Homo sapiens: one gene and its partners. The protein of the gene in region 5 purifies or fractionates together with the protein of the main gene of each other region. This does not show direct contact. Each region holds a gene or a part of one and is shown on either strand. Other genes may lie near its edges.

Region 1 (3,881 bases), on a different chromosome or scaffold from region 5:
AAAGTGTTGGGATTACAGGCATGAGCCATCGCGCCCGGCTAAAAAATATTTTTATATTTATTTATATTTATATATAGATGGTGCTTATATCCAAAGTCTTTATTCTCTCCTTCATGTTTCTTTTTTTTCTTTTTTTTTTTTTGAGACGGAGTCTCGCTCTGTCGCCCACGCTGGAGTGCAGTGGCGCGATCTTGGCTCATTGCAAGCTCCGCCTCCCGGTTTCACGCCATTCTCCTGCCTCAGCCTCCCAAGTAGCTGGGACTACAGGCGCCCGCCACCACACCCGGCTAATTTTTTGTATTTTCAGTAGAGACGGGGTTTCACTGTATTAGCCAGGATGGTCTCGATCTCCTGACCTCTTGATCCGCCTGCCTCGGCCTCCCAAAGTTCTGGGATTACAGGCGTGAGCCACCGCGCCTGGCCTTCTTCTTCTTTTTTTTTTTAAAGACAGTGTCTCACTCTGTCGCCCAGGCTGGAGTGCAATGGCATGATCTCAGCTCACTGCAACCTCAGCCTTCCAGGTTCAGGCAATTCTCTTGCCTCAGCTTCCTGAGTAGCTGGAATTACAGACATGTGCCACGACGCCCAGCTAATTTTTTTATTTTAGTAGAGACAGGTTTCGCCACGTTGGCCAGGCTGGTGCCGAACTCCTGGCCTCAAGTGATCCCCCCTGCCTGGCCTCCCAAAGCGCTGGGATTACAGCCGTGAGCCACCGCGCCCTGCGCCTTCATATTTTTCTTAACCCTTCCTTTCTTCTTTAATTTTTTCCTGTGGGGGCATGTTGACCTGAGCTGGGGTCCACGCTGTCCGGGTTCTGTGTTCATCACATCCCCTGCCCGCACAGGACGTGAGCCTGCACTTCGTGCTCTGGGGCTGCCTGCACGTGTACCAGCGCATGATCGACAAGGCGGAGGACGTGTGCCTGTTCGTAGCGCAGCCCGGGGAACTGGTGGGGCAGCTGGCGGTGCTCACTGGCGAACCTCTCATCTTCACACTGCGAGCCCAACGCGACTGCACCTTCCTGCGGATCTCCAAGTCCGACTTCTATGAGTATGACAGCCCGAAGTTGGAGTGTGGGTGGCACTCGGAGGACCCCAACCCGTGGGAGTGGCCAGAACCCCATCCCTCAACCTCACTCCTGGAAGAGCAGAAGGGAGCCCCCAGATCTGGCCTCCCAGCGCCGGTGTAGGACGGTTTTGAGGCCTTCCTCTTTCATCCCAAGTCTGTTCCTGCAGGATCATGCGCGCACAGCCCAGTGTGGTGCTGAGTGCGGCGCACACGGTGGCAGCCAGGATGTCGCCCTTCGTGCGCCAGATGGACTTCGCCATCGACTGGACTGCAGTGGAGGCGGGACGCGCGCTGTACAGGTGCAGCTCCCACCGCGCTGCTCAGGCCCGGCCTAGGGGTGGGGACCTGGGGGTGGTCAGACCTTGCTGACCTCCACGCCCACTCAGGCAGGGCGACCGCTCCGACTGCACTTACATCGTGCTCAATGGGCGGCTGCGTAGCGTGATCCAGCGAGGCAGTGGCAAGAAGGAGCTGGTGGGCGAGTACGGCCGCGGCGACCTCATCGGCGTGGTGAGCGCGACCCCCACCCACTGACCTCTGGCCTTTTCCAGGCCAGTCCCTCGACAACTCACACACATCATCCCGGGTAATCCAGGGAGTGGTGAATGCAGCTCCCGACCTCTGAGGTCACCCAGTCCACTCCCCGCCCAGACCTCATTTCGTTGGAAAAAGGGGATTCCGCCTGTCGTGGATCCCTGTCCTCTCCCTCTCCCCAGAGCTCTAATGGGTAGCGAGCGAGGCTTGCTTCCCTACACCCCCATTGCAGGGGAGCCCTAGATGGGGCAGTACAGCCCCCTTTCCACCCATCTTCGGCCTCCTCATTCCCCACCCAAGCAGCCCCAATCATGCACGCGGCCCCCCAGGTGGAGGCACTGACCCGGCAGCCGCGAGCCACGACGGTGCACGCGGTGCGCGACACGGAGCTGGCCAAGCTTCCCGAGGGCACCTTGGGTCACATCAAACGCCGGTACCCGCAGGTGCGGCCTGTTGTGGGCGGGGCAGAGAGGCGGAGGCGGGACTCCGGGGGGGTGGGGGCCGGGCCTAGTGTGTGGGCGGGGCTTACAGAGGGGCGGGGTCGAGGGAGGGGCCGAAGCGAGAGAGTGAGGGCGGGGGCTCTCGGGGGTGGGACCCAGGTAACGGGCACCCAGGAGCCCCGGCATAGGAGGGAGAGGTGGGACCTGGACAGCCGCTTCCCAGGTCTCACTGAAATGCCGGCCTCCAACGCCCCCAGGTCGTGACCCGCCTTATCCACCTACTGAGCCAGAAAATTCTAGGGAATTTGCAGCAGCTGCAAGGACCCTTCCCAGGTGAGAGCCGGCCGGCCCAGAGCGTGCTGGGAGATGTAGTCCGGCGTCCAGAGCATGCTGGGAGGGAAGCCTTCTTTCCTGAGGGATGCTGGGAAATGGAGTTCCGCGAAGAAATCGTGCCCCTGAGGGTTTCAAACCCTAAGTAGGACCCAGGTGCAGAGCATTCTGGGGAATGGAGTTCGTGTTCCTGAGCATGCTGGGAAACGAAGTCCTCGACCCCTGGCGTGCTAGTTAATGGGCTCGAAAGTAAATCAGTGGTGCCGGGGAGGGAGTCTTAGGCGGTGGACTTGGCGTAGTCTGCCCGGGAGTCAGGGCTTGCTGGGGAAGTCCACGGCCTGGACGTTGAGAGAAAGGGAGTCCTAGATCAGAATATGATGGCAGGGCCGTCATGGTGGCTCATGCCTGTAATCTCAGCACTTTGGGAGGCTGAGGCAGGAGGATCGCTTGAGCCCAGGAGATTGAGTTTGAAACCAGCCTGGGCAACATAGTAGGACCCCCGTCTCTACAAAAATTTCAAACATTAGCTGGGCTTGGTGACACATGCCTGTAGTCTCAGCCACTCAGGAGGCTGAGGCGGGAGGATTGATTGCTTGAGCCCGGAGGTCGAGGCTGCAGTGAGCCGTGATCGTGCCACTGTACTCCAGCCGGGATGACAGAGCTAGAACCTGTTTCAGAAAAAATAAAACAGCAAACAAACAAAACTCCCCATACCATGATGGAAAATAGTCTGTGGATTGTTGTTTAGGACTCTGGGCACCTCGCCTTCTGAAGTTACAGCTTGCTGGGAGATGTAGCCCCCTGTTTCAGCCTGTGGCTTCAGTGAGCTAGAACAGAATGGGGCGTGCGGTGGGGTTGGAGGCCTGCTGAAATGAGGGCCTGAGTTTCTACATTGTGGTGGCCAGATTCTGGGCCAGCCCAGCAACCTAGATACCCCTTTTCCCTCCAGGGGTTCTACCCAATTGGCCCTGAGCCCTAGATCCCCCAAGGCGGGGGCAGGGCGGTAGTGGCAGAAAAGACATCATTAAGAAATTACAGAGGCCTGGGGCGGTGGGTCACGCCTGTAATCTCAGCACTTTGTGAGGCTGAGGCAGGTGAATCACTTGAGGTCAGGGGTTCGAGACCAGCCTGGCCAACGTGGTGAAACTCATCTCTACTAAAAGTACAAAAATTAGTCGGGTGTGGTGGTGGGTGCCTGTAATCCCAGCTACTTGGACGGCTGAGGCAGGAGAATCGCTTGAACCGGGGAGGCAGAGGTTGCAGTGAGCCGAGCCTACGCCATTGCACTCCAGCCTGGGCAACCAGAGCAAAACTCCATCTCAAAAAAAAAAAAAGAAAGAAAAAAAAAAAGAAAAGAAAAGGAAAGAAATTACAGATAGAGAATACAATATCTAGAAGACAAAAGAGGGTCATCTTGCCGTGTGGCTGAAAGAGGGAGGGAGGAAGGGAGGGAGAAAGAGGCTTTTCTAAGGACAGTGAGCTGAGACTTGACAACTAAGATGGGGCCAG
Region 2 (3,881 bases), on a different chromosome or scaffold from region 5:
CAATAAAATTTAAAGCCTGCCACTAAACACAACACTTTGGAGAAATTTGTCTCTGAAGTTGTTATCATGGAAGGTTCAAAATTACAAGTGTATGGTGCACACAGAGATATGAAGAGACACACACACACACAGAGAGAGAGAGAGAGAGAGAGAGAGAGAGAGACAGAGACACAGAGAGAGAGAGATCAGCCAGTGATTCTGAATAGAAAATGAAGTTAGGTAATGAGGAGGGATTAAAGAGTAAAGTCTCTGAGGAGGAACAAGGGCATGGTTCCTGGAATAAATGAATGTATCAGTATTAGTTAAAAATGACACATTTTCCTTGTGACAGATACTAAATGTTTGTAGGTTTGTAGATGGTTTGGAGGCCAAACCGTAAAGAAATTCTTATTTGCATGGAGGTATTTTTTCTTTTACCTTTCTTCTTCTGTGTCATAGAAGCCAAGTTCAGTGGTGAGAGTGAGGTAAGAGATGGAAAGAGAATTTTGAGAAAATGAAGAATATTTGAAATAGCCTCTCTTGATGATAATTACAAAGAGAACTTACAAAAGAAATATAAAAGTGTGTGGTGCTTTATATATAATGAGAAATATAAAATGATTGTTGATTGTGTTTTTGTAATATCTTAGATTGAGGTTTTTTTGGACACAGAGTCTTTTTCTGTTGCCCAGGCTGTTCTCAAACTCCTGGCTCAAGCAATTCTTCCACCTCAGCCTCTGGAATAGGTAGTATTATAGACATATGCCACCACAGTAGGCTAATATCTTACTTTTTAAAAAATTCACAACTTAGAACTGTTGTCCTGTATACCTAGTCATACCTAGTTTGTAAAATGCAGCATGTTTGAAATTTTCTTTAAACTTTTAATAAAAATTTAAATGCATTGGTATTTATCATTATTTTTTATTTTAGAAATAAATTAATGATATTTCAAATTTGTTTATACTTACCCATGCTGGCAATTATGCTATGTACAGGTAATCTGGAAGGTCCATGATAAAACGACCTGGACACATTGCTTTTTCTCTGCTGGTCTTGGTTTTTAAATGCTGAATTCTCTTCTTTGGTAATATTAATATAAAAGCATATGTCTGTAGAATTCATAATGTATCGAGGACCTGGATTCAGCAAAATGTTTTTATTATCCTCCCTCCTAACACCAATCAAGCAGACGCCAAACCTTAATTTAAAAAAAAAGAGAGTTTGTAAGAAAATTAGTAAATTATTGTAAGGCTGAGGAAAATAAAAGCTTTAAATAATAGCATTTTAAAGCTTGAAATGATCCTAGAAGTTCAAGATCCTCATTTTTACAGGAAAATAAACTATGTGCTTAGTGTGTTGTAAAACCAATTTAGCTGATTATGACCACTATAAATTTACATTTTAATGAAAATGAATGGAAGAACATAAGAAACATGAGTGCATGTATACACTAAGGGTAACATTATTTTGCGAATTTTTACAACAATTTTACTTTGGTCAAAAAACATAAACAGCATATCTTACTTTGGTTAAAAAAAATAAATAAAAAGCTTAAAACTATTGGCCAAAGGAAAGAAACTTACCCATGGTCACCTGAAAGAGAACCAGGGTCCCTGAATTTATCACAGTTGGTTTACTTTAAATTTTAGAAAAAATATATATATTTAAATAGTCTTAAATAGGTATGTACTTAGTCAGAAAAAAAAAGTAAAGTAGAATACAGAAGCTCCTTGACTTATAATAGAGTTATGTCCTGATAAACCCAGCATAAGTTGAAAATATTGTTAAATAAAAAATGCTTTTAATACAGCTAGCCTAACAAATATCATAGTTTTAACCTAGCCAACCTTAAACATACTCATAACACTTACATTGCCTACAGTTGGGCAAAATCATCTAATACCAAGCCTGTTTTATAATAAAGTGTTAAATATCTTATGTAATTTATTGAATATTCTACTGAAAGTGAAAAATAAAATGATTGTATGGATACTGGAAGTATGGTTTCTACTGAATGGCTATTGTTTTGTACCATCATGGTAAAAAAATAGTAAGTCAAAGCATCATAAGTTGGGGGTTCCTGTACATTACATAATAGATTAGTTAGTAGACTATATACGTATATTGTAAATCCTCCAAAATGTGTCACATTAAAACATTTAATACAGATAATATGTTATTTTCATTATATACATACATTTTTACTTCTTAAGTAAATCCTTTTTTTTTCCAAAAAGGAAAAGAAAAAAAAAGTTCTATGTTTGAATTGGAAGGTAGTTTTATTTATTTTTTAACTTATTTCTCAGGCCAAAACAAGGGCCACCATCAGAGATTTTTTTTTCAAATGTACAGTTTTTAGAAATATTAGTGTTACTTTGTTTTAGTTCCTAATCAACATCTTAAAATTCAGATCTGTGAAGAAGATTTTCATATGTATGTAAATTCTTAATGGATTAAAATATTTTAAAAAGACTTTAAAAGTGGCTAAATGAAATATTCCTACTAAATTATAATTTACTCCTGACTGTCTTATAGAGACCATACAGACACCAGGGTTCAAATGTTTCAACATTGGGGAATATTGTGACAAAAATTCCGGAATGCCTAAACACATGAACACAATATGCATTCTATTTTTGAAAACTATTTTCACATGATATGCTTGACTGATTGATATTTTAATTTTTCTCTGAGGCAGAAACATACTTTTTGTGTGCATGGAAAGAGGCATATGTAAAACTCTTTCCTTCATATTCAGCAAAAAATGTACTTTCTTCCAAAACAATGTGGTAGACTTCATTCCCGGAGCATCTACCGTACATCTTCTGCCATTGTTCTGGCGATTGCTGGCCTTCTCTGCAACACAGGCACACACACATACACACACACAAAAAGAAAACACAGTGAATGTGGTTAAAAAACAGTTGTTATAGAACTGTTTCTCAACTGTGTAAGAACTGGCAAGCACAATCCAAAGGAGCATCTGAGTAATGCTTTGAAGTCTGAAGATGACATTATATGCAAGAGTTTCTAAAAAATTTTGAATACTATATATATATATATATATATATATATGTATATATATATATATGCTTGAGAAATGACAGTTTTGTAGAAAGTGGGAGTTTTCCAAGATCCAGCTAATGAAAAGCTTTACTCTCACAATGAATCAATGAGATACAGGATTTTAGTCTCTCTTTATATACATATCCTATCATGTATATCTTCTAAAATTTGTTGTACAGTCTCCATAATATGGCCAACGTTATCTTACCTATGATACCTGCGTGGCTGCTGTAGGTATTTTATTTTGCTTTATACTTAAAATTACAAATTTATCTCAATTTATCTTTGATTTTATAGAAAATATACCTTTAGTTTTTGTTCATATCGTAGCAATAACTTTCTTCCAATTGTATAGCAGTCACGAAAAGACACTTTTCTTATTTTAAATGTAAGGATCTCTCCAACTAACTGAATATTCTTGTAACCACAAAATTCATGTTGGAATCCTAATCCCATTATGATGGTATTTGGGAGTGTGGCCTTTGAGAGGCAATTAGGTTATGAGAGTGGAGCCCTCAGGAATGGAATTAGTGCCTTTTAAAAAGATGCTAAAGAGCTATCTTCCCGCCATGTGAAAATACAAGTCAGCAGTTTAAAACTCAGAAGGGGGCCCTCACCAGCACTGGATCATGTTGGCACCTAGATCTTGGATTTCCAGCCTTCAGAACTGTAAGAAATGAATTTCTGTTGTTTATAAAATGCCCAAGCTGTGGTAATTTGTAATAACAGCCTGAACTGACTAAATCTCCAAAAGACATCCCACAAAAGTATTTTTATAAAGAAGATAATTTTACCACAAAAAGTACAATGTCTTTTGTTCTGGAACGTTCTGC
Region 3 (3,881 bases), about 12 Mb from region 5:
TTTATTATTGTTATTGCTGTTGTTTACTTAAAATAAAGCTTATTTACTTGATTTTATTTTGTATCTTAGTCCAAACCTGCAGTGCCTTCAAGAGTTCCTGTTTGTCACATGATTCAATTACCCTGACCAAAATCAGGAGAGCCAGCAACAGGTGCTTAAATTGCCGGTATACCTGGATTATGTTTAGGATTTAATAATTTACACAGGAATATAGAGAACTGTTTTCAAGTACATTAAAACACTTTTTAAATCCAAAAGAATCAGTAGAAACTATTTAAACTAATTTCTTCATTTTAGATATCAGAAATTTGAGGATCAGAGAAGCTAACAAAGATCTTGCCCAAAAAATCAAGTATCAAGTATCATACACTGAGCAATGAGACTGGATCAAGGTGTTTGGATACTCCCATGCCCTTTGTACTACCAAACTTTAAGAAAATCTTGTCAAATGAGACAAATGCCAAATGAACACAATGACTTTTCAAGTAAAAGTTAAGATAATTAACTTTCCATCCAAGTTGGAAAGTTCTAGCCTCTGAGATCCTTACATCTTCTTGCAAGCATGCATTCTCAGATGGTTGGTCACTACACATGGTAGAAATTTGCCCAACACTGTTGCTTTGCAAATTTCTCGCATTCATTTTAGCCTTCAAAAGAATTGGATCATACCTGTTGTTCCAGAGGTAAAAATGTAAAGACAAGTAGACTTGAGGAGTGAGACAACATGGTGGCTGCGTGGCACGGGCTCATCAGGTGAGGTGCTCAGTTTTTCTTTGAGTGAAATTACACCTTGTGGAACAGAATCTTTCATCCCCCAAACACTGATATTTTCTGAGAGGCTTGGAAGGATTTCTTCTACCGTTCCAAGCAAATCTAAAAGCCAAAGGGTTGGGAAGAGTTAAGCAAACCTTAAATCTCAAACAATTCACTTTGGAGTTGCTTTTGTGTATTGAAACAGGGATAAAATGTAAATAAAATGCTGATTTCCTTCTTATGTTGGATAAGTAATATCACAGTCATTTTATGGTTCCGTTTCAACAGGACCAACTGAAAGGGAAATTTAGTTATCACCTGACAGACCAATGCAAGCAGTCCAATTCAGACTGAATTTAAGAGACTCCATTATTCAAATTATGGGTTTCCCTCCACCAATTTTTAAATAAAACTATTTAAAACTCTGTCTGAATCTAAATTCAGGATACTGCACTAAACATTTTCCTTGAAGTACAACTCAGTAGCTAGTTATTCCAAAAGCTGTCTGCAGGTTACTCTTCAGTTCCACTGTAATGCAAAACATTTGGGAGAATCCCCGACTGCTCTGAAATCACAAGATCATTGTGGTTTAGAAATCATTCCAAAGCCAGAAGTTAAGTGAGTGGGGACTCCAAAATGGGGGAGGGTGGGAGAGAGAGGTGAAGACTGAGAAATTACCTATTGGGTACAATGTTTACAATTCACAGTTTGGGTGATTGGCAATTTAAGGTTCAGAAAGAAAAAGGGACAAGTTTCTTAGGAAGGATCTGCTACAAGGATAACAAAGGAGCAACTGGTGAGGTGAGACTATGTTGAGTTAATCTGTGAAACTTAACCAGACCTTCCTGATTTGCCCAGTAACCCAGGAAAAAAATATCATCTGTTCAAGAGAGGAGTAGTGGTGAAAACAAGAGAGACAGAAGGTGGGACTGGGTCCTTGATGAGGAAATAATTAAGCACTGAGGTAACCAACACTCTGTGGGATACAAAAGAAACAATGTCATCATTCCTATACAGTCTTTTGTGTAAGCAAGTGAAGCATCATTTTTTTCTCCAGAGTAGACAGGCATACAATTATTTATATTATTTAAATTCTTTTTAAATTCACCACTCCCTTACTTTAGCATGGATCTCTGACATGAAGTTCAACTTTTATATTCTACATGGCAACTCTGATTTTACTTCCTTATTTCTATAATATGCTATACATTTAGAAGGTTCAAGGGATTTCTGAGTGCTATATAGGTTATCTTAAAATCTATATTAACGTCCTTGGGGATATTAAACAATAGTACCCCACTGGCCTTTTGGAGTTAATGCAAGGGAAGTCCAACATTACTGGCAACTACCAGAAGCTAAGAGACAAGAAAAAATTCTTGGATCCTTCTGAGGGAGCATGGCTCTGCTGACAGCTTTATTTTGGATGTCTAGCCCCCAGAACTGTGAGAAAATAAATTTCGCTTGTTTTAAGCCACCAAGTTTGTGGTACTTCATTATAGCAGCCTTAGGAAACTCATACATCAAGCTCACAAGTTGGTGGATGGTAGAATTAGTAATCTAACCATAGACTAACTCTAAAACTATAAAATTACCTCATAAAAGAAATAAATGGCAAAAAAGAAAAAATAATGGTGCTAAATGTAAAATAGATACAGATTGGCCAGGCCCGGTGGCTCATGCCTGTAATTCCAGCACTTTGGGAGGCCGAAGCAGGTGGATCACCTGAGGTCAGGAGTTCGAGACCAGCCTGGCCAACATGGTGAAACCCCATCTCTACTAAGAATACAAAAAAAATAGCCAGGTATGGTGATGGGTGCCTGTAATCCCATCTACTCAGGAGGCTGAGGCAGGAGAATCGCTTGAACCCAGGAGGCGGAGGTGGCAGTGAGCCGAGATCACGCCATTGTACTCCAGCCTGGGCAAGAAGAGCAAAACTCTGTCTCAAAAAAAAAAAAAAAAAAAACCCGGATCAGAATGCTCAAGTTCTGTACATGAAAATGTGGACCTTTACACCTAAAGCAATTATATTTTTTCTAATTTTTTCAGGAAAAATTTTAAAATAATCACAAGATATATTCTGCTTTGAGTTTGAATTCAGAGTTCTGCATTAAACATTTCCCTGGAAACATAAATCAGTATCTGGTTCCCTCAAAAGGCCAACTATCAGTCATTGGGTTAGTTCTACTACAATGAAATACATTGGGGGAAAACTCTTGATTTACTTTCATGAAATCTATAACCCAGATTGATCACAAAGCAGCAGCAAGATAAATATGTCAAGTGGGACTAAGCAGTTTATAAATAAAACCTGTATGAAAATAGAAGGCAACACAGAAATTATAATGAAGTTGATATGCGGTGGAAAGTGGGGTTCATAGCCTTAAGATGTCTTATTAATTTTTATTTCTATAACAAATCTAAGTAAAATATAAGAATCCAGGGAAAATGCCTAGCTCTACTTAACACACACACATCATGCTGCTGTATATAGATTGCTTTGGCAAAATGTGAAAAATCACCAAGGATGATAGGAGGAGTGACAAGTTAGAAACATGAAAAACTGGATAAGCAAAGGATCTAGACTTTCTTTTTAATGTTTGTTCCAGATTTTGTTGTAATGACTCTTTCTCAGGTTTTGAACTTGTAAGTGCAAATCTCTGAACTGACTCATTACTTTAATTTCAAAATCTCTCATCTAGAATAAGAAATTCCCAGCACAAACTTTTATATGTTCTTAATGATATGTATGTCTAAATTGGGGAAATAAGTGCCAAGAAAGTTAAAATATGAATAAGTGTGGCTCCAAATCTTTGTTGGAATTCTAGAGCCCAAAGAAACTGAGTATTTACCAAGAGTGATAATTTTTACAGCAAGAAAAAAGAAAGTGAGAAGGTTCCTAGGAATCAGAGGAGATACAATGTCACTTCTTTCATAAGTTAAAATTAATTTTATTTAGGTGAGATGCTTAGAATTCTCAAATAGAATTTAGTGTAACAAAATTATTTCTTCAATAGTGGTAGGAAATGTGGGTGAGGATAGAGAAAGTTAAAATAAAAGAGTCATGTAGGGGATAAAGAAGAGTCATGCAGGGGATAAAGAATCATTATCACTGCCAGTCTTTCTTAATA
Region 4 (3,881 bases), on a different chromosome or scaffold from region 5:
GAAAATCAGGGTAATAACTCCCTACCTCATAGGACTATTATGAGGGGTAAATGAGATAATGAAGGTAAAGCGTTTCGCATAGTGCCTGGCATAGAATCAGCCCTTAATAAATAATAAACTGTAAAGGCCCTTACTGGCCTCCAAATATGGAGACCGTGGGTCAGGAAATGAAAATTGTGAGTTCAGACCGGGCTCGGTGGCTCATGCCTGTAATCCCCGCACTTTGGGAGGCCAAGGCGGGCGGATCACTTGAGGTCAGGGGTTTGAGAACAATCTGGCCAACATGGTAGAACCGCATCTCTACTAAAACTACAAAAATTAGCTGGGCATGGTGGTATGTGCCTGTAATCCCAGCTACTTGGGAGGCTGAGGCAAAAGAATCACTCGTACCCAGGAGGCGGAAGTTGCAGTGAGCCAAGATCGGCCCACTGCACTCCAGCCTGGGTAACAGAGTGAAACTCTATCTCAAAAAAAAAAAAAAGACAGACATTATAAAACAAATGCAAAAAGAGACTTCCAAGAATGTTAATCTATCCTCTCCCTTGAACCCTATCCAGTCCTCAGCCGGGCCCACTCCCTGATGTCCTGCTGTCTGCGGAGGTTGGGGGGTCCAGCCCACCTGGGACCCAGAACACAGCCACTCTGCCACCTGCAGTAGAGACAGAGAAGGCCACCAGCTCCTACTCAGCAACATCAGGGAGCAAAAACATTTCCACAGCAAACCCTTGGGTGCTCACCAATGAAAGACTGAGGTCTCCGAACAGGTACCAAAGGTCTGCAATGGTGTTCAGCCCCACTTGAAGGATGATAAAGAGGCCAACAAACTTGACCCCTAAAGCACCAGCAAGACTAACGCCAGTCAGGCTGAGCCAGAACCACCAGGGGGCAGAGAAGGGCCTGAAAATCAACAAGACGGAGTTCAATTTGGCAGCTGGAACCAAAGCCAAACGCAAGCGCAGCAGGGGACAGGGCAGTTCTCAGACTTGGAGCGGCTGTGCTGTGCCCTGTCTTGGGGGCTCTTAGCCTCAAGGGACCATGGCGTGGCTCCATGGAGGAGGCGGCCTGTGAAACCCCTGGAACGGCAGGAAAAGCACTGTCTGAGGGCGCAGGGTATTCTTCAGGGGAGAGTGTCCATAGTGCTCCTGGCTAAGTACAGGGCTCAGGGTAAGTGGGGGCTCCTTCTTCACAAGTGACCAGTCAGGCAGGAGTAAAAGGAGAATCCTTAGGTGCCCCTGGACTCAGGCAGCCCTCTCCTTTGTGTCACCTCTGCCCTTGTCGAAGGCAGCATTTACCGAGTGCTTACTATGTATGCGTCACGCATCATTCCAAGTACGATGCATATATTAACTCTTCTAGCCGTCACTACAGCACACAGAGGATCCTGTCACTAGGTCCTCTTTTTGCACAGGAGGAAATCAAGATACAGAGAGGTGGAGTAATACAGCTAGCAGGCAGTGGGGCACAGTTTTAACCCAGGCAATTGGGTCAATGTTAGTGCTCTTAACCATTTTGCTATTCGTATAGCACCTAGTACTCTACACTATGATTCTCTGGCTCTCTGGCTGCCTCCTCTGCCAGAGTGAATATTCCTTAACAGCCAAGCCCAACAGAGCTCAGTACCTCCAGCTCCCCGCATAGTACCTGGTACACAGTATGTACTCAAGAAATGGTAGATGGAAGTGGATGTGGCATAAGCACAACAACCAAAGCCAGAGTGGGCTGAGAGTCACTGATCAGGTTTGATTAGCACAATGGAGCTTAATGAGCCTGGCTGTGCAAAGTTAACTTCCAGAAAAGCCTACGAGGGGCCAACTCTTCTGGTTTGAATAGAATGAATGACTTATTCTACTTTCTCAGAAGTAGAAGGATGATCTGGAAAAGACTATTCTGCAAGTAGACCGGACCCTCCAAGTCAGCTTTAGAACTGACCAGGACCTGGAAGGATCCTCTTGGCTGGTATGGACCATTCAAGCCAACCTTTACATATGCTATTCCCATCATTAGGTCAGGACTGGATGCAACCACTGACGAAAGGGAGATAGTTTCCAGGCAGCATCTACCCTGGTGCCCTCCCTTCTAGGACAGAGTATGTGAAGGACAGCCCTGTCCCGGGATTTCCTAACCAGCACTGGTTACAAGAGGTGGGTGGGGAAAGTATTAGGACCCCCCATGATATCCCAAAACCCCTACCCAATTGTACTCCATTGTAAACATGATAATAATAATACGCTTGAAAAAGACAACTGACATTTTCTCGGTCTTGAATATGGCAAAAATAAAATCACCTGTAGAAAACTTTTTAAAATCTATTTTTATGATCTAAAATGGACAATCTAAGTTAAAAAAACAAACAAAAAGTATGCTTGCCTTAAAATCAGCTTCAAGACAAGTCTCTGGGCACCCGCCCTGGCCCTGGCCATTACAGAAATTTTGGAGTTGCCACAGCTTCCAACCCTCCCCTCCCGGGGATGGAGTTTCTGACCTGTCGGCGCAAGAGTTGTACTTGACCATGCTCAGCATGGCAGCCATGATGAAGAACATCAGGATGGGGTCAAGGAGGATGTACTGGGACAGAGTGAGGCATCCCGTGTCTGAAAAACATGAGCTCGCTGGTGAAAAAGCGAGGTAAGAGAAGGGCCCCCTGAAAACCAAGCACCCCAGTAGTAGGAAACAGTCCCTCTTGCCACTTAATTGAGTGTAAGCACTTGTGCAGTCAGGACTAGAGTCAACACTGAGTCATCAGGGAGGTAGAAGGCCACAGCTCTGGGAGACATCAAAGCCCAATGACAAGAAGCAGTAACTCACACTGCCTCTAGGCCCTCAACCCAAGAGAGGATCATGTCATTCGCTCCCTCAGACCAGCCCTGAGACAAGGTGTCATCCTCATTTCCACCATCAAAAAGGGAGTCCTACCACTCTGCTCATGTAACCGCAAACTATCTACACCTATGATAGAATCTTATCATTTTACATGAAGTCTCTCTTGGGGGTCGATTCTCCAGACAGATGGCAGAGTGATGTTTTTTAATTTAAATCCTTAAATCTCATTATGTCATGCCCCTGCTTAAACCCTCCAATGTCTTCCAACCTCACTCAAAGTAAAAAGTTCTCATGACAACTGCCAGAGTCTGTGCGGTCTCCCTACCCATCTAACCTCATCTCCCAACACCCTCTGCCTCACTCACTCTGCCCTTTCCACGCCAGCCTTCTTACTGTGATTTGAACCCACAGAGGTCCACACCAGAACTACAGTACATGCACTTCCCTCTGCCTGAATGCTCTTCCCTCAGATCCCTGCAGGGCCTGATCCTTTGTCTCACTCAGGTCTCTGCTCAAAGCTCCCCTCTCAGAAGCTCTTTCCTGACTATCCTGTCTAAAATAGTACTGATCTCCATTATTCCATCCCTTACACTGCTTTATTTTCTACACTGCACTTGTGGCTTAGGACATCACATGACAGACTTATTCATTTACTTGTTTATTTACTGTCTGCCCCACGATGAGGTAAGCTCAATGAGACCAGAGTGACTCATCAGTGTATCCTCTCAGACTAAGAAAAGTGGCCGGGAGCTGGGTAGGTGCTTGAGAAATAACTATTGAATGAAAAGTACATAAATGACTAAATGAATGAATAACTGAAGATGGAAATTCAAGATACAAGGAAAAAGCCACCAGTCCTCTATAGAGAAAGCCAATAATCTTGCAATCTATCTGTCAAAACAAAGCAACATATCTGTCAAAGCAAACCCCTAAAGTACCCCATTTAAATTGGTCTAGACTTCTTTAAATGTTAAGCTCCACAAGGTCATGAATTCACTTTCATAGGAACAAAGCTAGCAACAGGATCAACTTCTACGATGAACTCTCATTTATCCATGTGA
Region 5 (4,654 bases):
ATGGAGTTTGACAAATACTGTACTGCTGATAAATTTGCTCTGACGTAAAAAAATAATTCAACAACCTATATTCGAGGATGCCTGGTGGTGCTTCAGAGAAACAGAGTGAATAAAAGACTTTGTGGATGCCGTTAAGCTGGAATCAGAACTCAGAATGCTCACCGAAAGAAGGAAGCATTTAAGATTGAGCAGGAAATAATGGCCTTGTTTCAGCAAAGAGATGACACCAGTCCAATATGTTTATTATTGTTGGTTTATTTCATAATTTCATTTTGTTACATTCTCAAGGAACAGTGTGTTCCCAGTAGCATCTATCAAGTGAACCCTGGAGGCTGGTCACATTCATAATCTTTTGTTTTTCTGGCTACATAGAGGTGATTTTGAACTACAAGATCATCTCAGCTATTCAGAGTTTAGATTTTATTTAGCCTTATTTGTTTTGCCTAGCATTTATGTATTTGAAAATATCTTGATTTTTAATCTTCTATCACCTTGGCCCTTACCTGAAGTGAACTTTGTTTGAACTCAATTGATTTCACCTCTCAATAAATATGAAATTAATCTGAAATGAATTGAATTGTTTGGCATATTTTACCTCTTCTATGTGCACTAATCTATTTCACACATTTTCAGTTTGTTTAGAGATACATGTTCCAATGTATCTGAGTAGAAACTAGTGAGATGGGAATGGATATAGCCATAATATTCCATCATTGAATTCCATGGCATTCACTCAAATGTAACTCACCTGTTTTAACAGTACCTTAATTTGGCCTGTATTTATTGGACTTGGTGTTCTTTTTGCTGTGAGAAGACGGTGAAGGTGATTCTTGAATGTTTGTTTTCTGTGTTGCATCATGTTTGTACAACACGGTAATATATTTGGACCTTGATTAAATAATGTAAGAGGGGAATTTGATCAAAAAATAAAATGCACAAGACTGTTAAAACAATGTCTAATTCTATCCATGCAAAAATGGAGTAGAATCCTAAAATGCTTATGACAACTACTTGATTGCTTCTAGTCCCTCTTTTAAATACTTTAATTTACTTAGATACATGTATCATACGTACTTCTTGGCCTCAGTTTTCCTCCTAATAGCCTAATTGTTCTTTTTACTGTGCAGGCATAACTATATAACAAAGTAGGTTTTTTTTTTCATGCCATTTATGAGTCATATAATTTAGATAATTTATTGTTTATTTTACCATTATTGTTGCTAACAAACTTCGTTGTTTTGCATTGTTTGTTGGGACAATTAAATAGTGTACCTCTTGGACTAATAGATTAAATAGTTCATCAGAGATAAATTGCACTGCTGAAGCATCAAAGGAGAAAGACTGAAGTGTAGAATCTGCACTTCAATCTTTCTCCTTAATTAGCACCACCAGGGAATTTGATTCAAGTTCTAGAGGGGAGTGAACCCAGGAATTGGCTTAAAAACAAAAACATACACACAAAAAAACCAACGCTCGCAAGCAATTATTTATGCATGCGGTCCACGCACTCAGTTTGAGAAACACTGACTCGACTTAAAAGTCTTTATAATGCTCAGATTTCTGAAATGCTATTGACCTGAAAACATCTCATGAAGTTATTAGTTTGAACGCGTGGTGGCGGTACAAGCTAAGAGAGTGAATGAAAGCTCTGCAGACTCGGTGGACTCCGTTTCATCCAGAAGCCAAGTAAAAATACAGACCACGTTTACAGCTAAAGCTGAGATAGATGTGTCCGGGAAGGCAGTCGTCGCCAGACAAGTTGTAAGAACGAATTTAAAAATCTCTGCAAAGACATCCGAGAGGGTCGACGGTAGATGTGGTGATTGGGAGCTGAAAAGGATTTTTCTTCCGTATTCAGACATAATAGACATGATGCAAACTAAAGTACAGAACAAGAAAAGGCAAGTGGCTTTCTTCATTTTATTGATGCTTTGGGGAGAGGTGGGTTCTGAATCGATTCAGTATTCCGTATTGGAGGAGACAGAAAGTGGCACGTTTGTGGCCAACTTGACAAAGGACCTGGGACTGAGGGTGGGGGAGCTGGCTTCGCGGGGCGCTCGGGTTGTTTTCAAAGGGAACAGACAACATTTGCAGTTTGATCCACAGACCCATGATTTACTGCTAAATGAAAAACTGGACCGGGAGGAGCTGTGTGGCTCCACTGAGCCGTGTGTGCTACCTTTCCAAGTGTTACTGGAAAACCCCTTGCAGTTTTTTCAGGCTTCCTTGCGAGTCAGAGATATAAATGACCACGCCCCGGAATTCCCTGCCAGAGAAATGCTCCTGAAAATATCAGAAATTACTATGCCAGGAAAGATATTTCCTTTGAAAATGGCACACGATTTAGACACCGGCAGCAACGGCCTTCAGAGGTACACAATCAGCTCCAACCCTCACTTCCACGTTCTCACCCGCAATCGCAGCGAAGGCAGGAAGTTCCCGGAGCTGGTGCTAGACAAACCGTTGGACCGCGAGGAGCAGCCCCAACTCAGGCTAACGCTGATCGCGCTGGATGGCGGGTCTCCGCCCCGGTCAGGGACCTCCGAGATTCAGATCCAGGTTTTGGACATCAATGACAACGTCCCCGAGTTTGCTCAGGAGCTCTATGAAGCACAAGTCCCTGAGAACAACCCCCTCGGCTCTCTGGTTATTACCGTCTCAGCCAGAGATTTAGATGCAGGATCGTTTGGGAAGGTATCTTACGCCCTGTTTCAAGTCGATGACGTCAACCAACCCTTCGAAATAAACGCAATCACAGGAGAAATTCGGCTGAGAAAGGCTTTGGATTTTGAGGAAATTCAGTCTTATGACGTGGATGTTGAGGCTACAGATGGTGGAGGCCTATCAGGAAAATGCTCTTTAGTCGTCAGGGTCCTGGACGTGAATGACAATGCCCCTGAACTCACCATGTCGTTCTTCATCAGCCTCATCCCAGAAAACTTACCAGAGATCACAGTGGCAGTTTTCAGTGTTTCAGATGCAGACTCTGGACATAACCAACAGGTTATTTGTTCAATAGAGAACAATCTCCCCTTTCTACTAAGACCTTCCGTGGAGAATTTCTACACCCTGGTAACAGAAGGCGCGCTGGACAGAGAGAGCAGAGCCGAGTACAACATCACTATCACGGTCACTGATTTGGGGACACCAAGGCTGAAAACCCAGCAGAGCATAACTGTGCAGGTCTCCGACGTCAATGACAACGCCCCCGCCTTCACCCAAACCTCCTACACCCTGTTCGTCCGCGAGAACAACAGCCCCGCCCTGCACATCGGCAGCGTCAGCGCCACAGACAGAGACTCAGGCATCAACGCCCAGGTCACCTACTCGCTGCTGCCGCCCCAGGACCCGCACCTGCCCCTCTCTTCCCTGGTCTCCATCAACGCGGACAACGGCCACCTGTTTGCCCTCAGGTCGCTGGACTACGAGGCCCTGCAGTCTTTCGAGTTCCGCGTGGGCGCCACAGACCGCGGCTCCCCGGCGTTGAGCAGCGAGGCGCTGGTGCGCTTGCTGGTGCTGGACGCCAACGACAACTCGCCCTTCGTGTTGTACCCGCTGCAGAACGGCTCCGCGCCCTGCACCGAGCTGGTGCCCCGGGCGGCCGAGCCGGGCTACCTGGTGACCAAGGTGGTGGCGGTGGACGGCGACTCGGGCCAGAACGCCTGGCTGTCGTACCAGCTGCTCAAGGCCACGGAGCTCGGTCTGTTCGGCGTGTGGGCGCACAATGGCGAGGTGCGCACCGCCAGGCTGCTGAGCGAGCGAGACGCAGCCAAGCACAGGCTGGTGGTGCTTGTCAAGGACAATGGCGAGCCTCCGCGCTCGGCCACCGCCACGCTGCACGTGCTCCTGGTGGACGGCTTCTCCCAGCCCTACCTGCCTCTCCCTGAGGCGGCCCCGGCCCAAGCCCAGGCCGACTCTCTCACCGTCTACCTGGTGGTGGCGTTGGCCTCGGTGTCGTCGCTCTTCCTCTTTTCGGTGCTCCTGTTCGTGGCGGTGCGGCTGTGCAGGAGGAGCAGGGCGGCCTCGGTGGGTCGCTACTCGGTGCCCGAGGGTCCCTTTCCAGGGCATCTGGTGGATGTGAGCGGCACCGGGACCCTATCCCAGAGCTACCAGTACAAGGTGTGTCTGACGGGAGGCTCAGAAACAAATGAGTTCAAGTTCCTGAAGCCGATTATGCCCAACTTCCCTCCTCAGGGCACTGAGAGAGAAATGGAAGAAACCCCCACCTCTCGGAATAGCTTCCCGTTCAGTTAAGTGTGGGATTATTTTACTAAATCTTACTTATGTTTGGAGATCTCTTTTAACTTAAAGTTACATGGTCTGTTTCTTGTTTATTTTACCTCTATTCTTTAGGTTGAAATTTTATATAAAGTAAGATACTGGTATCTTAGTATTTCCTGTTCATGCTTAGTAGTTTATTACTTCACTTGAGGGTACTTGACAATATGAACAAAAAGTAAATTTTTATTTGCATAATTTTAAGCTTTTGAAATTAAATTATCTATTCTTCCCCCCCCCAAAAAAAAGTATTGTAAATCCTTAAGTAAAATTGTATTTCTAGCTATTGGTAAGAGTTGTTTCACTATTGCTATGTAGGACTGTTTAAAATGTGAGTATCTGATATTATTTAATCCTCCAATGTCTCATTTTGCAG
Region 6 (3,881 bases), on a different chromosome or scaffold from region 5:
CGCTTCCCGGGTTCAAGTGATTCTCCTGCCTCAGCCTCCCGAGTAGATAAGATTACAGGCGCCCACCACCACATCCTGGTAATTTTTGTATTTTTAGTAGAGACGGGGTTTCACCATGTTGGCCAGGCTGGTCTTGAACTCCTGACATCAAGTGGTCCACCCAGCTCAGCCTCCCAAAGTGCTGGGATTGCAGGTGTGAGCCACCACGCCCGGCCCCCTCATACACTTTCATTGGTGGAATGCCCTTCAGAAGGATTCCTTGGCAGTCATGGTACATTTGTCACTGTAGTGTTTGTAGACAAATTCAGAGCAATGCAGGTGTGATGACCGCGGGTAGAATCACATTCGGAAAATGACCTTTGGTTTCAGAAAAGAGCCCAATTAATGTCTGTGCTTTGGTTTCCTGTGTTCACCTCATGTGAGGCACACATGGGTTGGGAGGCAGTCTCAGCCATGAGAATTCAGAGCTGTGCCCCTCCGGTGCAGCTGTTAGTTCGAGGGGACCAGGCTCTGTGTGGTCCCGACAGCACTGTGTCTTCCAGGCACCAGCTGGTGGTGAGCAGCCCTCCGAGACCTGTGAGGCACGGGGACATGGTGCAGCTGGTCCACGGCATGACCACCCGCTCCCTGAACACGTGAGTGTGCCCGCCGTCTGCTCTGCTGCACCTGTGGGTTTCCTCTGTGGTTCTCTGTTCAGACCAAAACGTGAGCCCTGCCTTGGGCCGCTGCCCCCTGTCTACCCATCATCTGCATGTGTAGCAGCTCTTAGACCTACATTTGATGCCGGGAGGGGACCCAGGCCTGGCCGCGGAAGGGAGCGGGGTTAAGAGGAAGCAGGGGCTCTGTGAGGACTGGACAGAAGCACCTAGCACAGCCCATCCTAGGAGAGCTCAGGGCCCCGTGGATGAGTGTACAAGGACAGGCTGGGAATGTTGACCCGCTTTCTATGCAGAGAATGGAGTTTGGGCACACCTCCTTAAAGTGGTCAAGCTTAAAGTATGAGTGAGTCCAAGAAGCCTGGAAGCTCGGGCACGAGTGGAGCCGTGAAGGCTTCTTCCTTCTCAGTCCTTCGTCCTTGTCCGACTTGCCTTCCCGTGGTGCTGGGCACAGTTGCTCACACCCTCCTCCTTCCTCCCTGACTGCTCTCTCCACCGCCTCCTTTTCCTCTGTTGCTCTCAGTCTCTGAGGGCCCTCCGGCCTTGCTGCCTCTGCACAGGCCCAGTCCCGGGGCTACCTCTCCTGGACTTCCACCCGGCTGCCCGGGGCTCACCTCCAGCTCTCCACGACTCCCAGCTCCACAGGGGCGGTCTCTGGCCCTGGCTTTTCTGGTTCTCCCTGGAAAGGGCCCAGTAGCTGAGGCATCACCTGACTCCTTCCCCTCCCCTCCCATTGCATGTTGATTCCATTGGGAGATCCTGTTTCTCAACCTTCAGAACCAGCCCTGGGTAGGGGTCCTTCCTTCTCCCTCTACTCCCACCTCCTGGGGCCTGACCTCTCTACCTCGCAGCAGCCTGTCCGGCCTGCGGACCGTGCACAACCCACTTGCGTTGTTCCTCTGTGCTCAGTGACTCCCGTCACCCGCCAAGGTCCCTGGTGACCCTGACACACTTCACCCCCGCCACCCTGGCTCCCCCCAGCCCTGAAACAACCACCTGCGGGCCCCTTGGGGGCTTCACACTTGCTCCCTCTGCGAGAATGTTCTTGGACTTGGCTCCCCCATGGCCCCTCTATGTAGGGGTCTGCTGGGATGTCACTGCATCCAAAAGTGCCTCCTGGGTGCTGTCCCCCACCATTTGTTTTATTAGTGGCACTCCTACAGGTGCACGCTCTGCCCACCGGCATGATGGCTGTTTCCCAGAGGGCTGTGAGGGCCTTGTCTTGTTCACAGCTGGGTGGCTGCTCCTAGACAGTGCCAGGTGCATGGTGCGGTACCACATGGTTACTGAGTGTGTGGATTAAGAGGAAGTGGGTGTTCCTGACCGGGCGTGCTGGCTCACACCTGTAATCCCAGCACTTTGGGAGGCCAAGGTGGGCAGATCATTTGAGGTCAGGAGTTGGAGACAAGCTGGGCCAACATGGTGAAACCCCGTCTCTACTAAAAATACAAAAATTAGCCAGGCATGGTGGCATGTGCCTGTAATCCCAGCTAGACAGGAGGCTGAGGCAGGAGAATCGCTTGAACCCAGGAGGCAGAGATTGCAGTGAGCTGAGATCGCGCCATTTGCACTCCAGCCTGGGTGACAGAGTGAGACTCCATCTCAAAACAAAAAAGAAGTGGGTGTTCGTTAACATTGAGGTTGATAGCCTTTTCTCCCAGCTTATCTGCTGCGTCCCCAGGCCAGCTGGGCGCAGGGGCGGGCAGCTCAGCCCTGCAAGTTGTAGCATTGGTACTGCCAGCTGGCATCGCAGCAGTACCGGATCGGGCCTGGGCGCACGGTTCCTTCCTCTGAAACTTGGTTCGCTCGTCTAACAGGTGGAAGGTTCCACAGCAGAGTGTCCTTTTCTTTTGGAGATGTTCCCACAGGGCCTCCTGCCTGTTTAGTGTCCACTCCCATCGCCGAGCCTCAAGACCTCCGTCCTCAGTAGCAGCAACTCATGGGACTGGGCCACCCCTTATGGCTGAGCCGGCTTTGTTTCTGAAAAGCAACCTTTTCCTGCCTGAAAGATTTAGTAATTGCCTTCCAGAGGAGTTCAAGGAATTTTCTGAAATCTCGGTCTTGGTTTTCCAGGCATGATGTTGCAGCCCCCCTGAGCCCCCATTCACAGGAGGTCTCCTGCTACATTGACTATAACATCTCCATGCCCGCCCAGAACCTCTGGAGACTGGTGAGTAAGGCTGCGGCTATAGCAGCCACAACCGTCAGTAATGAACACTCCCTCACACGGAGCACTTCCTCACCCGGAGCACTCCCTAACACAGAGCACTTCCTAACAGAACACTTCATCACACGGAGCACTTCCTCTAACACGGAGCACTTCCTCTAACACAGGACACTTCCTCACACGGAACACTTCCTCACACGGAGCACTTCCTGTAACAGGACACTTCCTCACACGGAGCACTTCCTCTAACATGGAGCACTTCCTGTAACACAGGACACTTCCTCACACGGAGCACTTCCTCTAACACAGGACACTTCCTCACACGGAGCACTTCCTCACAGGGAGCACTTTCTCTAACACAGGACACTTCCTCACATGGAGCACTTCCTCACATGGAGCACTTCCTCACAGGGAGCACTTCCTCACACGGAACACTTCCTCTAACACAGGACACTTCCTCTCACACTCACACGGAGCACTTCCTCTAACACAGGACACTTCCTCACACGGAGCACTTCCTCACACGGAGCACTTCCTCTAACACAGGACACTTCCTCACACGGAGCACTTCCTCACATGGAGCACTTCCTCACAGGGAGCACTTCCTCACACGGAACACTTCCTCTAACACAGGACACTCTCACACTCACACGGAGCACTTCCTCTAACACAGGACACTTCCTCACACAGAGCACTTCCTCACACGGAGCACTTCCTCACACGGAACACTTCCTCACACGGAACACTTCCTCACACGGAACACCTCCTCACACGGAACACTTCCTCACACGGAGCACTTCCTCACACGGAACACCTCCTCACACGGAGCACTTCCTCACACGGAGCACTTCCTCTAACAGAACACTTCCTCACACGGAGCACTTCCTCACAGGGAGCACTCCATCACACGGAGCACTTGCTCACACGGAGCACTTCCTGACATGGAATGTTTGAAACTGCCGTTGAGAATAATCATTTTTCCTTTTTTTCAGTTTACCCAGTTGAGGTTGGATATTTAGAATAATTCTGATTCAGATGTAAAGTTACATAAGTTTTAT
Region 7 (3,881 bases), on a different chromosome or scaffold from region 5:
GAGGGGTCAGAATCCTGACCTTCCCACATTCTGTGAGGAGGTGGGTTTGGAATGATAACGTATTTATATGTGCAAGCTTATCTTTGTAACTAAACATTCTAGGAAGAGTTAGTCCTAAATCACTGAGGTAGATTAGATTAGGGGGAAATGCCAGTGGAAGCTGCTCTTTCCACTATTTCCCAGTGGTTCACGCTTCCCTGTGGGCTTCCTTATGGACTGCACATCATGGTCACCAAGTAAACATGCTGGAGAGTTCCCAAGCCAGCAGCTGGGGGTGGCAGTGCAATCTCTCTGCATCTACTAAAGGTCATTGTCCCAGGGACATTATCTCAGCAAAGGGCTGAGAAAATCACTTTCACAAGCTGCAAATGGTCGCAGGCAGCCTCTAGGGCAGTTGCGATAACCTGCGGGGTGTGGGGTGTGGCGTGGGAGCTTCGGGAGGGGCCTGATGAAGTGACCAGGGTGAAGATGCAGAGAAGACTCTGGGGGCAGGTCGAGGAGGCGGCGGGAGAAGGGGCTTGTCTCATTCAGGCCATCCATCTTCCTTCCCCACACAGTCTCTACAGACATTTTGGAAACTGCTAGACCTTAATGAAGGGCAAGATAAATGTGATTCTCCAGATAGAGGTTGAAATGCAAACTTATCTAAAGTACATTTGAAAACTATGGGGAGCTGACCAAACTACCACACCTTGGTAGAGCAGAAAATATGAGGACCCTAAAGGCAGATTTCTATTTTATTCAATCATTTGATGCTATACTCAAAACCAAAGCTTTGAAAACATGAAATGAGGCGAGTTGAGTCCTGTCCCACATCCTTAATGAACACCCCTCTCCGATACTCTGGAAGCACAGCTGTACGGCCAGTCCTAGAGAACACCCAGGTGTATTCTAGTCACTATCCTTCCCTCTGCATTGCCAATCCCCTTGCTGGTTAAAGCAGGCTCAGGCAATTATTCATTCTATTCAATACACTGGTTGTACATCCGCATCACCAGGGGAGTGCTTGACAACTGAGTTGCCCATGCGGACCCCAGACCAAGAAAGTTCCGGTTGTGGGGACAGGCCTCAGTAACTTTTAAGTTTTTCGATGATTCCAAGGTAGAGCCAGGGAAACCACTGATTCCTGAAAAGCTTCCACCTGAACAGCTGTGATGGCACACCATGCAGCTGCAAGTGGCTGCTCGAAGGTTCAGCTTTCCAAGCAGTGTCCCTGGAAGGAGACGGGAGAATGCCATCAATCTCCATCCTCAGAATATGCTGGGGGCTTTGTGAAAAATACAGATACCTCCTGCTAATACTCAAGATTTTGGATTTCTGGTGGTGCGGCCAGGTGAATATATAGACTGGAGGCTGGGAATCTCTACTGATTCAAAACTCCCACCAAGTGCTATTACAGTTAGTTTAATGAAGAATACTGGACTAATGACATATTTTTACAAATATGCTCTAAAAATGTTTAACAGAAAAACAGAAAACATAAAAGAGCAATAATTGTTTAATGTAAATATATTCTTATTTTAAATTTTACTAAGTCACACTCTACTCAGAGTTTTGGCAACTACTTTTACTCAGAGATTGGCTAGGGAGTAGAAGAAAATAACAAGTAGTGTAGGCCCATAAACTAAGGAACATCCAAGGCAGCAATATGGGTGATAATGGGTGTAGAAATCATGTCATGCACAGAAGACTTAAGGAAATGTAAGATATTCTACCTGGAGGAAAAAGCAGGTAGTTGGTTAGAGGTGGCCATGAATGAGTGAGCTGTCCTAAGAATTTGCAAGAGGAAGGAGGGCTGCTTGGTGTACCCTCAATATAGAATAGGAATAAGTGGAAACCAAAGGGAGGCAGATTTTTACAGTACAAGGAAAAGTTCTGAGTCATCCAATAATCAAATGGGCTTTGATGTTTATAAATATGTGAGTGCCCCATCACTGAAAGTATTCAAGATGAGTCTAGGTGACCTCCACTCAGGGTTGCTATTAAAGGCAATTTGCTTCAGGTCCCTTTCAACTCTAAGAGGCTATGATTATAAGTATACAAGAAGAGAAAAAAAAATACTAAGCTGTATCTGATTTTTCCATTGATTCTTTCTGCAGAGACCACTACCATTTATTATTTATTTAATAATCATTTATTGAAAACCTACTATGAGCAAGGCACTGTGCAAAGCCTTGGGGATACAGAGATAATGAAGACACCGTTCTGCTCTCAAGGAGCTCACATTCTAAATGGGACAGACAAGTTTTCAACAATTATAATACAGTACAATAAATGTGAGAATATACGTATTCATGGAATACTGCGGGATCATAAAGGACAGACACCTAACTCAGCTTAGAAGAACTTTAAAGAAAGCTGAGTATAAAAGAATGAAGAGGCATTAGTAGAGTGGATGAGCAGGGTGGTGACAGTGAAGGGCATTCCACGCACAGCAAACAGCACGTGCAAAGGTGCAGAGGTGTGCGAGAGCCTGGTACATCTGGGAATGGTGAGTGATCCACTATGGCTGAAGAGCAGTGACTGTGCAAGAGTTGGGAGAGCTAAGGCTGAGAGGTAAGCAAGGGCCAGATCATAAAGAGTCTTGGATGCCATGCTGAACAACTAGGACTTGATCCTGAAGTCCCTGGGAATCCACTGGAGAAATTTAAGCAGGGAAGTGACATGCTCACATGTGCAATTCAGAAAGACCATTCTTGTGTCAGTATAAAAGAAAGACGGTGGAGGATAAGACAGGAAGCAAGGAGACCAGTTAAGACTATGGCAGGAGTTCAGGCAAGAAACAACAAGGACCTAGACTAAGAGGGATGCTTTGGGAAAAGGAGGGAAAGAAGAGGTGAATCACATTTACTGAAGGCCTAGTTGCTTAGGAGGTTAGAACTGACAGATTGTGAAGGCCGAGACGATGGGATGTGGGGAGTGAGAGAGGGAAGAGTTTGGAAGGGCTGCCGAGTTTCCGGCTTGAGCAACGGGGTGGATGGCGGAGGTCAGGAATACAGGAGGAGGAGCAGTTTTGGTGGTGGGGGAAGAGGGGTGATGAGTTCAGTTTTGGAAATGTTGAGATTGAGGTGCCGGAGGGATTTCCAGTTCATCTTCAACACGCATGAAAATACTCTTGCAATTCCAGTCCCTGAACTCTGCCGAGCAGAAAATGTCAATCATCTGGAAAGGGATTAAATCAACCCAGCCAAGTTAGAAATCATCCTTTCTGATTGCACTCGCCTTGAAATCTGAATGGAGTTCCAGGGAAACAATTGATACTGTTTTCCTTATTCCTTCTGTTTGAAACTCATCTGTGGCAAGATCAGTAAACTTATCCTCAACTGCATGTGCAGGTTGAAATGGTCAGTTTTCAACAAAGAAACAATGGTTCTTGGCTGTCAATGCAGATGGCTTTTCTTATTAAAGCTCCTCTCCCCAAGCTCCTTAAAGACTCTTAATGGATTTCCATATTTCTAAATGTCATTTCAGTTTACTTCTTAATAAGCCCTTTACACCCTCTGTTCATTCCTTAGACAAGCCAAGGGTTTGCAGCCATTAAAAAAAATTATTTAAATCATCTTTGAAAATGTAAATCTCATCCTTCACTAAGGAAAGACCCACAATATCCAACGATTGGAAATAATGTCATTCAATTTACAGAAAACCGAGTAACTTCCCACACATTTTCATTTGCTAGGATTTCCTAAATCATTCCATCCTTTTGGACCTCCTGCATTTTTTGGAAACTGCTAAGAATTTGTTGTGAAATGAGGCAAGGCATGCAGTAACAACCTGCACTTTCTCATTTGACCCTTAATGCTTTGATTCCATTGACGATCATGAAAATTAAATGGTGAGCAATGATCTTTGCAGGCTCGTACCCATTTCTGTAAGGCAAC

Evidence for each region.
Region 1: the proteins of PCDHB6 (region 5) and PNPLA6 purify together in Homo sapiens (affinity purification with mass spectrometry; one large-scale study listed by BioGRID and IntAct). This does not show direct contact.
Region 2: the proteins of PCDHB6 (region 5) and KCNT2 purify together in Homo sapiens (affinity purification with mass spectrometry; one large-scale study listed by BioGRID and IntAct). This does not show direct contact.
Region 3: the proteins of PCDHB6 (region 5) and SLC27A6 purify together in Homo sapiens (affinity purification with mass spectrometry; one large-scale study listed by BioGRID and IntAct). This does not show direct contact.
Region 4: the proteins of PCDHB6 (region 5) and POMT2 purify together in Homo sapiens (affinity purification with mass spectrometry; one large-scale study listed by BioGRID and IntAct). This does not show direct contact.
Region 6: the proteins of PCDHB6 (region 5) and POMT1 purify together in Homo sapiens (affinity purification with mass spectrometry; one large-scale study listed by BioGRID and IntAct). This does not show direct contact.
Region 7: the proteins of PCDHB6 (region 5) and ST7 purify together in Homo sapiens (affinity purification with mass spectrometry; one large-scale study listed by BioGRID and IntAct). This does not show direct contact.

What each region holds. Positions count from the first base shown.
Region 1 is NC_000019.10:7,549,063-7,552,943, forward strand, and holds part of PNPLA6 (patatin-like phospholipase domain-containing protein 6), read left to right. Parts: intron 1-844; coding exon 845-1,050; intron 1,051-1,235; coding exon 1,236-1,367; intron 1,368-1,454; coding exon 1,455-1,578; intron 1,579-1,931; coding exon 1,932-2,045; intron 2,046-2,299; coding exon 2,300-2,375; intron 2,376-3,881. UniProt on the Homo sapiens protein: Phospholipase B that deacylates intracellular phosphatidylcholine (PtdCho), generating glycerophosphocholine (GroPtdCho). This deacylation occurs at both sn-2 and sn-1 positions of PtdCho.
Region 2 is NC_000001.11:196,339,391-196,343,271, forward strand, and holds part of KCNT2 (potassium channel subfamily T member 2), read right to left. Parts: intron 3,716-3,881; exon of another isoform or gene 3,666-3,715; intron 2,839-3,665; coding exon 2,689-2,838; intron 1,181-2,688; coding exon 951-1,180; intron 1-950. UniProt on the Homo sapiens protein: Sodium-activated and chloride-activated potassium channel. Produces rapidly activating outward rectifier K(+) currents. Contributes to regulate neuronal excitability.
Region 3 is NC_000005.10:128,982,125-128,986,005, reverse strand, and holds part of SLC27A6 (long-chain fatty acid transport protein 6), read right to left. Parts: intron 874-3,881; coding exon 670-873; intron 1-669. UniProt on the Homo sapiens protein: Mediates the import of long-chain fatty acids (LCFA) into the cell by facilitating their transport at the plasma membrane.
Region 4 is NC_000014.9:77,300,353-77,304,233, forward strand, and holds part of POMT2 (protein O-mannosyl-transferase 2), read right to left. Parts: intron 2,592-3,881; coding exon 2,483-2,591; intron 898-2,482; coding exon 738-897; intron 1-737. UniProt on the Homo sapiens protein: Transfers mannosyl residues to the hydroxyl group of serine or threonine residues. Coexpression of both POMT1 and POMT2 is necessary for enzyme activity, expression of either POMT1 or POMT2 alone is insufficient.
Region 5 is NC_000005.10:141,148,389-141,153,042, forward strand, and holds the start of PCDHB6 (protocadherin beta-6 isoform 1 precursor), read left to right. Parts: upstream 1-1,668; 5' UTR 1,669-1,869; coding exon 1,870-4,254; 3' UTR 4,255-4,654. UniProt on the Homo sapiens protein: Calcium-dependent cell-adhesion protein involved in cells self-recognition and non-self discrimination. Thereby, it is involved in the establishment and maintenance of specific neuronal connections in the brain.
Region 6 is NC_000009.12:131,512,697-131,516,577, forward strand, and holds part of POMT1 (protein O-mannosyl-transferase 1), read left to right. Parts: intron 1-542; coding exon 543-635; intron 636-2,729; coding exon 2,730-2,826; intron 2,827-3,861; exon of another isoform or gene 3,862-3,881. UniProt on the Homo sapiens protein: Transfers mannosyl residues to the hydroxyl group of serine or threonine residues. Coexpression of both POMT1 and POMT2 is necessary for enzyme activity, expression of either POMT1 or POMT2 alone is insufficient.
Region 7 is NC_000007.14:117,222,142-117,226,022, reverse strand, and holds part of ST7 (suppressor of tumorigenicity 7 protein), read right to left. Parts: intron 3,163-3,881; coding exon of another isoform or gene 3,043-3,162; exon of another isoform or gene 2,116-3,042; intron 1-2,115. UniProt on the Homo sapiens protein: May act as a tumor suppressor.